2 linked regions of the Homo sapiens genome follow. The protein of the gene in region 1 purifies or fractionates together with the protein of each later gene. This does not show direct contact. Each region holds a gene or a part of one and is shown on either strand. Other genes may lie near its edges.

What was found.
Region 2: the proteins of MVD (region 1) and ASS1 fractionate together in Homo sapiens (co-fractionation; one large-scale study listed by BioGRID). This does not show direct contact.

What each region holds. Positions count from the first base shown.
Region 1 is NC_000016.10:88,655,713-88,661,278, reverse strand, and holds part of MVD (diphosphomevalonate decarboxylase), read left to right. Parts: intron 1-641; exon of another isoform or gene 642-759; intron 760-2,558; coding exon 2,559-2,629; intron 2,630-3,249; coding exon 3,250-3,364; intron 3,365-3,696; coding exon 3,697-3,843; intron 3,844-4,031; coding exon of another isoform or gene 4,032-4,133; intron 4,134-4,974; coding exon 4,975-5,174; intron 5,175-5,548; coding exon 5,549-5,566. UniProt on the Homo sapiens protein: Catalyzes the ATP dependent decarboxylation of (R)-5-diphosphomevalonate to form isopentenyl diphosphate (IPP).
Region 2 is NC_000009.12:130,453,928-130,458,460, forward strand, and holds part of ASS1 (argininosuccinate synthase), read left to right. Parts: intron 1-377; coding exon 378-446; intron 447-4,473; coding exon 4,474-4,533. UniProt on the Homo sapiens protein: One of the enzymes of the urea cycle, the metabolic pathway transforming neurotoxic amonia produced by protein catabolism into inocuous urea in the liver of ureotelic animals.

The DNA.
Region 1 (5,566 bases):
GAAGTTCAGTGTATCAATGTTGATGTCAAGTCTAAGACCTCTTTGCTTAGCCCTATGTCCTGAAGATTGTCTGCTTTCCTCCAAGTTGTACAGGATTGCCTTTTATATTTAAGTCTGTGATCCAAGGTTGTCCAGTTAGCCCAGAAAGGCTATCCTTCCTCTATTGAATTGCTTTTGCACTTTTGTAAAAAAAAAAATCAGCTGGGCATGTTTGTGTGGGTCTATTTCTGGATTTTCTCTTCTGCTATTTTTTTTTTTTTTTTTTTTTTTTTTGAGACAGAGTCTTGCTCTGTCACCCAGGCTGGAGTGCAGTGGCACAATCTTGGCTCACTGTAACCTCCGCCTCCTGGGTTCAAGCAATTCTCCTGCCTTAGTCTTCTGAGTATTTGGGACTACATGCACGTGCCACCACACTTGGCTAATTTTTGTATTTTTAGTAGAGATGGGGTTTCACCGTGTTAGCCAGGCTGGTCTGAAGCTCCTGACCTCGTGATCTGCCCACCTCAGCCTCCCAAAGTGCTGGGATTACAGGTGTGAGCCACCGCGTCTGGCCTTTTATTTTTATTTTTTATATTTATTTATTTTATATTTATATTTTTATATTTATTTGTATTACTTTTATATTTATTTTTTTGAGACAGACTGTCACTGCGACACCCAGGCTGGAGTGCAATGGCGTGATCTCGGCTCACTGCAACCTCCGCTTCCCGGGTTCAACCGATTCTCCTGCCTCAGCCTCTCGAGTAGCTGGGACTACAGGTGTGCGCCACCACACCTGGCTAATTTTTGTACTTTTAGTGGAGACGGGGTTTTGCCATATTGGCCAGGCTGGTCTTAAACTCCTGACCTCAAGTGATCTGCCTGCTTCGGCCTCCCAAAGTGCTGGGATCGTAGGTGTGAGCCACTGAGGCTCACCAACAGTGATATTTATGGAAACGTGTCCATTTTCTTGTAACGTTCAGAGACTCTGGTCTTCTTTAAACCTTACGTTTGAGCTGGTTTTTGATAGCGCGCTGGTGGAGGAGGGGGTGCTGGCTCAAGATAAGGAGGCAGAAGTCCAGGTTCCCCTCCCCACCAACGCTGTCCCATCCCCACCAGGCCCTCAGGAATTCCTGAGTGTCTGCTTGGCCTCTGACAAGAGCCGGCAGGTCAGGGGAGTCCAGTCTCCCGTGTGCTCTCCAATGACTCCTGGGGAGGTGAAAGTCCCCACTCCTTCAGGGAGGGAAAGGGGGCGGGGCACTGTTCCAGCCTGGAGTGTGGGAGGGATCTGTTTCTTTTTTTCTTTTCTTTTTTTTTTTTTTTGAGAAAGGGTCTCCCTCTGTTGCCAGGCTGGAGTAAGGCTGGAGTGCAGTGGTGCCATCTCGGCTCAGTGCAACCTCCGCCTCCCAGGTTCAAGCGATTTTCCCGCCTCAGCCTCCTGAGTAGCTGGGATAACAGGCGTGCGTCACTACAGCCTGGCTAATTTTTGTATTTTTAGTAGAGATGGGGTTTCACCATATTGGTCAGGTTGGTCTCAAACTCCCGACCTCAGGTGATCTGCCCACCTCGACCTCCCAAAGTGCTGGGATTACAGGCGTGAGCCACCGCGCCCGGCCAGGAGTCTGTTTCTGTGTTGCTAGGCTGCCCTTCCTGGTCCTGCTAGGGAGGGCTGGCTTTGGTTGGCAGTTCCAGCTTCTGCAGGGCTAGGTCTAGGGCAAGCAGAAAAGAAAGCCCCGGGCTCCCCCTGCACTGTCCCACAGCCGCCCTCTGTCACCCGTGAGAGTCTCACCTGTGATGTCCAGGGTCTCAGTTGTCCCCAGTGGGAGGAAGCGGGAGAAGTCCCCTGGCCCACCTTCCTGAAAGCAGAGGTTCGCCCGGCCTGTCAGGGCAGCGGCGTCCGCCTGCAAGGGGGGCCGCTCAGTGCTGTGCGTGAAAGAGCCTCGCGAGCTGCAGGGCGTGGTTCTCTGCCAGGTGTCCGCGTTTATCACCCCTGGAACTGTCCGCCATCCTCAGAGACCTCCCCTCGCACAAAACCGAGCAGATGGTGTGCTTAGCGAAGCCGCCGTGGAATAAGACTTCAGCTGAAGCACCACGCAGCGCTCCCAGGGCAAACGTTTCCTTTCGGGCTTTCTGGAAGTTTGATTTCACGTGCTGTCCCATGGCCGTGCTGGGCAGAAAGGGGTTTATCCTGGATGTTCCTGGGGCATATGAGCAGTGAGATGTGAGGAGTTCTCAGAGCTGGGCTCCTTTTGTTTGGGAAGGTGGAGGGGAGGCAGGCCGCGGTGGGAGCGATCCGCACCTGGGCACTCACGGATGCTGGAGTAGAAGCGATGAAGGAATGGGGAGCGGGGACGGAGGTTGGCTGGCCTCCAGCTCTGCTCTGGGAGCCTGAGCTCAGTGGGGTGGGAGCAGTTCTTGCAGGCCGGGGTCTGGCAGGAGGAGGGGCACACAGGTTGTGCGGTGAGAGACGGGACTGAGGCGGATGGGGGCCGTGGGTGGGGGGTGGGGGCACCTGTGGGGAACACTGGGGGAGGGTGGGCCGGGAAGCCCACCGGCCTGGCCCTGGCTGTTCATTACAGGGGGCAAGCGCGATGAAGAGCTGGTTCTGCCCATCAACTCCTCCCTGAGCGTCACTCTGCACCAGGACCAGGTATGTGTGGACTGACGACTAAACACCACAGTGCCATTTCCAGAACATTTGTAGAACAGTTGGTACCCGTTGGGTATGGTGGCTCACATCTGCAATCCCAGCACTTGGGGAGAGTCTCTTGAGCCCAGGCATTGGAGACCACAGTGAACCATGATCGCACCACTGCACTCCAGCCTGGGTGACAGAGTGAGACCCTGTCTCTGAAACAAAAAAAAAATTGGTACTTTTTTACCTAAAGGCTAGGATGAGATGGCCTAGCGACGACTCCCAGCCAGCACGCAGTGTCTGTTCCATCTCCCAGTATTAGGAGAGCTGAGCACAGCACACATGTGCCCCCAGGTCTCGTCACACATGCGCACACCGTGCCCCAGGGGCTCCCCTGGGAGTCCCCGTCTCTTTATTCAGGATAAGGCCTGGTTGCTCCACAAGGTGTGGCCCACGCTTTCATCCCCCACGGGCTTCCCCACTGCCCAGCTGAGACTGGCCTTTCCCCCCCTGCCCTCAGCAGGGCTGACCTTGCTCGAGTGGGCAGCCATGAGGCTCTCTCAGTAGAAAGGGGTACCTGGCTGGCATCGGTCCTCAATGCTGGCCTCTGAGGTGGCCCTGGGTTTCCTTTTCAGTTAAAAACCACCACAACAGCCGTCATCAGCAAGGACTTCACCGAGGACCGGATTTGGCTGAATGGCCGGGAGGAGGATGTGGGGCAGCCGCGGCTGCAGGCCTGCCTGCGGGAGAGTGAGCTGGGGTCCCCATAAGCCCATCCCTCCCTGTTGTCAGCAGGGTCCGAGCATCCAGAAAGTGCTTCTGCCTCTGTGCCCCTCCTGAGGCAGCAGGCGGGGTGGCTGGGAACCAGACATGCCCGCTGGGCCGCCAGCTCCAGGGCAGTGGCCCACCTCAATGACCAGCTGGGCTTGGGTCAGTCTGGGGTTTTCCCGGGTAAGAAACTCTCCACGAGGAGTCTGGCAGGCAGAGGCCTGGTGTTCAGCTGTGACCCCGGGCAGGTGGGCAGGAGCAGGGCGGGCAGGGTGCTGACGGCTGGGCCACACGCTGTCTCATTGTCTCTGCAGTCCGCTGCCTGGCCCGGAAGCGGAGGAACTCACGGGATGGGGACCCGCTGCCCTCCAGCCTCAGCTGCAAGGTGCACGTGGCATCGGTGAACAACTTCCCCACGGCTGCGGGCCTGGCCTCCTCAGCGGCGGGCTATGCCTGCCTAGGTGGGTGCCCACAGAGACCCGCAGGGGTTCTGGGCTGTGGGCGCAGGAGCCACTTCATGCTCTTCCCGGGTCAGGGAGCCCACTGCTGGGCGTGGCTAAAAGAGCATCCCCTCACCCCAGGCCTCCCTGGCCTCTCTGGAGTTGTTCAGTCTCTTCCCAGAGCACATCTGAACATTTTCATCTTCCAGTTGCAGCTGGCGTGGGGCTCTCGCCTGTAATCCCAGTACTTAAGAGGCTGATGGGGGAGAAGCACTGTAGGCCAGGAGTTCAAGACCAGCCTGGGCAACATAGTGAGACCCCCCCCCATCTCTACAAAAAATAAAAAAATCTTCCCGTTGCTGTATGTGGAGCCCCTCTAGATTGTCAGTGATAGAAACCACTTCAAACTGGCTCAGCCCTAAAATAGCGATGATTTTGTGGCTCACGTAACTGAGGATTCCAATGGGCACAGCTGGTTGCAGGCCCCGCTGGACCCAGCTCTCTGCTGGCCCCAGGCCACTTGCTGGCAGCTTCCCACCCACTGTCAGAGCCTGTCCCCCCGGTGGTGGTCTCACACCATCTTCACCCCTCAACTCCAGGGGTGACGCTTCCTGGCCCACCTGGGCTCCTGCGCCTTCCCTGAACCACCCTCGGTGACCAGGGTGGGTGACCAGACCTGGAGGTGGGGTTGCCCTGCTGGAGCCCTGTGGGAGGAGGGGAGAAGGTGGCTCCCGTGCTGGGTGGGCAGGGGGCGCGTCTTGTGGAGTCCAGCTCTGTCCTGGCATCGGTCCCTGCCCCACACAGCCTTAAAATTCCTTCCCACCCTCAAAGCCCAGCTTGGGTGTCCTCGGGGGCCTTTCTCCCGCCTTCCATGGGGCTTCCTGCTCTGCCGCAGGTACCTTTTGTTGCCCTTGTCGCGGGCCGCAAGCTCTGCAGGCCGTGAACAGAGAGTGTCCGAGAGTGGAACTAGCGGAGGTGGGGGACAGACGGCTGGGCCGGTGAATGCTGGCCTCAAAGGCTGATGGCCCAGAAGCCCTGTCATCTGGAAATCCCCATTTGCCGTGGGGTGTGGGACGTTCCTGGGGCGGTGAGCTGTCAGGGAGCACAGCGCAGGCAGCTCTGAGGACCCTCCCTGAATCCGCATGCCTGCAGCCTACACCCTGGCCCGTGTCTACGGCGTGGAGAGTGACCTCTCAGAAGTGGCTCGCCGGGGCTCAGGCAGCGCCTGCCGGAGCCTGTATGGGGGCTTTGTGGAGTGGCAGATGGGAGAGCAGGCCGACGGGAAGGACAGCATCGCTCGGCAAGTGGCCCCCGAGTCACACTGGCCTGAACTCCGCGTGCTCATCCTTGTGGTGAGTGGGGTGGGGCGGGTGGAGCAGCAGCCCGGTGGCCTCTGTCCCTAGTCAGGGCTGCTGCCGGGAGCAGGAGCGAAGGCGTCCATCCAGGCTTTGCTTGGCTCCTGGGGTCAGCGGGGGCTGAAGGAACAGAAGCGTGGTTGAGTGCTCAGGAACCGCTCCCATGCGGCGGGCGCCACCACCCGCTGGGATCTGGAAGTTGCCCCTGCGTCACCCCTGCTGTGGCCGGGAGGCCTCTGTGGTCAGGCAGGTGGCACTGACTCCCACCCCCGCTGCCTGCATTGGCTGAGGGAGGGCCGAGTGTTTGAGGCTGAGGTCCTTGGGGCTGGCCCCCTGCAGGGTGTGGCCCAGGCTGTCTCTCCCTCGTGCAGGTGAGCGCTGAGAAGAAG
Region 2 (4,533 bases), on another chromosome or scaffold:
AAGCTAATCTTTGCACTGGCTGAGAAAGAGTTTTCTGGAAAAGACAGATGAGTTTCAGGAGAACCCTAGACCTTCCAGCAATGACAGCAGATGGTTGTCTCCCAGCAGCCTGTGTGGCCAGGGCCAGGCTCAGCCAATGCTCCAACCCATGGAAGCCACCAGCCATCACCACGCTACAATCCAGCTCCCAATCTCACCTCCTGGAAGAATCTCACCTCTCCAGGCCTTGGGCTTTGTCCTTTTTCCTTCTTACTGTGACTTGGCCATGGAATGGAAGCTGTCTCTGTAGCAGGGGGTGGGAGGCTGCTGCATGCGGATGGTGTGAACTCAGGGCTCCCCCCAGGGGCTGACGGAGCCTCTCCGCTTCTGCTTCTCAGGCCAACATTGGCCAGAAGGAAGACTTCGAGGAAGCCAGGAAGAAGGCACTGAAGCTTGGGGCCAAAAAGGTACCAGGCGGGAGGCAGGGATTTGGGCTGGGAGTGGGGCGGTGATGTGGAGGGCAGTGGTGGATGCTCCTGCCCCAGGGATCCCATCCCTTCCAGTGTGTCTTCTTGCTTCTAAGAGTATGAGATCATCCTGCTCTCAGGTGTGTGAACCCTCTTGTTTTTCTGCCTCCCCCACGCCCTCTTCCACCCACCCACCTTCCCATCCAGGTGGAGTGTCTCTTCCCCACCCACATACCTTCCCTTCTCTTTTATCTCTCTGTCCATCTATGCACCCACTCACCCTCTTTTATCTCTGTTTATCTACTCGTCCACATATCCATCCATCATTCATCCCTCCATTAGCTATCCATCGATCCATCCATCCATCCATTCAGCCATCCATCCATCCATCACCCACCCATCCATTCACCCATCATCCATCCATCCATCCATCCATCACCCACCCATCCATTCACCCATCATCCATCCATCCATCCATTCATCCATTCATCCATCATCCATCCACCCATCCATCCATCACCCATCCACTCATCCACCCATCCATTATCCATCCATCCATTCATCCATCCATCCATCATCCATCTATCCATCTATCCATCCATCCTCCGTCCATTCATCCATCATCCATCCATCCATTCACCCATCATCCATCCATCCATCATCCATCCATTCATCCATCATCCATCCATCCATCCATTCACCCATCATCCATTCATCCAGCCATCATCCGTCTATCCATCCATCATCCATTTATTCATCCATCATCCATCCATCCATCCATCATTCTTCATCCTTCCATGCATCATCCATTCATCCATCCATCATCTACCCATGCATCCATCCATCATCCATCCGTCTATTCATCCATCCATTCATCCATCCATCATCTATCCATCCATCCCATTATCCATTCACCCATCCATCCCTTCATTATCCATCCATCCATCCACATATCCATCTGTCATTAATCCCTCCACTGTCTATCCATCCATTCATCCAGACAGCCAGCCATTCATCTATCCATCCCCCATCCATCCATCCATCCTTCATCCATTCACCGTTTTTCTATCCATCCATTCATCCATCCATCCATCTGTCATCCATCATCCATCCTTCTGTCCATCATCCCCCTACCTGTCCTTCCCTCTTTTATCTCTCTGTCTACCCATTCTTCCATTCATTCAACAGAATCAGAGAACTCCAATTGAGTCTGGTGCCTTGATTGTGAATCTAGGCATGTGGCAGGCAGACCCCTGTCCCATACAGGGCATTTATGATGAACAGTGTCATCAGGACCCCTGCTCACATGTGCTCACTCCCCATGGAGAAGCCCTTGCCACTTGTGCCCCTTCATTTGGGAGAGTGAGCAGGGGACATAGCAGGGATGATGTGCAAGGCCACCAGCCCACCTGCAGGGTCAGAGCTGATCCCCTCTGTGGGGTGCTTCTGCAGGGTTGCCAGGGTAATTAGCATGTTAAAATGAACACGGGAGGGAGTGGATGCCCCAGTCCCAAGTCACCTACTGGCCACAGGCCTGGAACTAGAATGTCCCTCCTTGGTTCTGTGCCTCCCGAGTGCTGGAGAGCAGAGGGGTTGTCTGAGCAGTAGTCCAGGAAGGGGAGAAAGAGCCCTGAGTGTTGAAGATTCGAGTGCGCTTTCAGCAGCGCAGGAGCAGGCTTTGTGCACGGCTTCAGCTTTTGTCCTTTATTCTAGATGAGCAGTTCTCAAAACTTGTGGTCTTGGGAATCCTCTACACTCTAATTTACGTGGCGTTTTTAATGTTTATTTTCTTGCATATAACATTAGGATGGGCCAGGCACAGTGGCTCACGCCTGTAATCCCAGCACTTTGGCAGGCTGAGGCAGGCAGATCACCTGAGGTCAGGAGTTCAAGACCAGCCTGGCCAACATGGTGAAACCCTGTCTCTACTAAAAATACAAAAATTAGCTGGGCGCGATGGTGGGTGCCTGTAATCCCAGATGCTCGGGAGGCTGAGGCAGGAGAGTCGCTTGAACCCAGGAGGCGGAGGTTGCAGTAAGCTGAAATCACACCATTGCACTCCATCCTGGGCAACAACAGCAAAACTCTGTAAAAAAAACCAACCAACCAACCAAACAAACACAAAAACACATTTATCCTAATGTTTTTTATATATCCTTAGTCCCAATTGCTTTCTTTTCTATGCCTTTTTATTTCATTTTTTAAAAGGATTTTTTTCAAAATAATTATAGACACAGGAAGTTGCAAAAGCAGTACCAAGAATTTCTCGACTCTTAAAAATTATTGAAGGCCTTGGCTGGGTGCGGTGGCTCACGCTTGTAATCCTAGCACTTTGGGAGGCTGAAGTGGGCAGATCTCTTGAGGTCAGGAGTTTGAGACCAGCCTGGCCAACCAGCCTAGTTTCTTTAGTAGAGAAACCCCACATGCCTGTAGTCCCAGCCACTCGGGAGGCTGAGGCAGGAGAATCACTTGAACCCGGAAGGCAGAGGTTACAGTGAGCCAAGATTGCACCTCTGCACTCCAGTCTGGATGACAGAGAGTCCATCTCAAAAAAATAAAAATTACTGAAGGCCTTAGAGAGCTTTTGTGGATTACATCTGTTGATATTTATCACATTAGAAATAAAAGCTGAAATGTTTTAAATGAACAGTTCATGTTAACATAAGTAACATTACACTTATGAAAAATAACTATTTTCTCAAACAAAAAATTTTAGTTAAGAATCTTATTGGCTTCCATTTTTGCAAATCTCTGTAATGTCTGGCTTGACAGAAAACAGATGGACTCTTGTAGCGGTTTTCTGCATTCACTTGTTTTTTCGTTTGTTTGTTTGTTTTTCTTTTTTAGCCTCCCAGGGCTTCCTCGCTATGTGATGCCTTGTTTTATTGAAGTTTATGAAGAAAACTGGGCAACACAGTGAGATCCCATCTCTACAAAAAATAAAAAACTTAGCCGGGCGTGGTAGCACATGCCCGTAGTCCCAGCTACTCAAGAGGCTGAGGTGGGAGGATTGCTTGAACCCAGGAGGTTGAGGCTGCAGTGAGCTAGGATCACACCACTGCACTCCAGTCTGGATGACAGAGAAAGACCCTGTCTCAAAAAAACAAAAAAAAAGTTTTCACTCAGTGTCTCCCTGAAAAGTCATTGGGAACCCCTGGGGGTCTACATTTCAAGAACCATTCCTCTGGATCGGGGTTTCTCAGTCTTGGCCTTGTTCCCGTGTGGCTGGCCGTCCTGTGCACGGGAGGATTTTAGCAGTATCCCCATAGCCTTTACCCACTAGATGCCAGAATTCCACCCCCCACCTGGTAGTTGTGGCAACCAAAAATATCTCCAGATACTTCCAAATGCCTCCCCTACTCCCACCCCCAACAGGGACAAAACCGTCTCTGGTTGGGAACTACTGCTGTGAGATCTTAGGTGACAACTAAGTTTCATCTTGTTGGGGCTGATTTAGAAGCCACATCCAGTTTCACAGAACGGTGCATCAGGATTGATTAGCAGGCTGGCCGCGGTGGCTTGTGCCTGTAATCCCAGCACTTTGGGAGGCCGAGGCAGCTGGATCACCTGAGGTCAGGGGTTCAAGACCAACCTGGCCAACATGGTGAAACCCCGTCTCTACCAAAAATACAAAAATTAGCAAGCCATGGTGGCATGCGCCTGTAATCCCAGCTACTCAAGAGGCTGAGGCAGGGGAGTTGCTTGAACCTGGGAGACGGAGGTTGCAGTGAGTTGAGACTGAGCCACTGCACTCCAACCTGGGCAACAGAGCAAGACTTCGACTCAAAAAAAAAAAAAAAAAGAGAGCTATTGATTAGCAATGTCTGCCATGAGTGCAGGAGGGAGAGTAACAGTGCAGTGTGCTGGGATTGATGAATGATGTCTACTACAGATGCAGAAGAAGAAGCACCAGGTACAGCGGGGGTGGCCCCGTATAGGTCTCAGCTAGCTGAGGCCCCTGGGGCTCTGTATGCCAGATGGCCCCTGTCCTTGCCTACTTCTTCCTTCTGGGCTCCTCTTCCCGTAGGTGTTCATTGAGGATGTCAGCAGGGAGTTTGTGGAGGAGTTCATCTGGCCGGCCATCCAG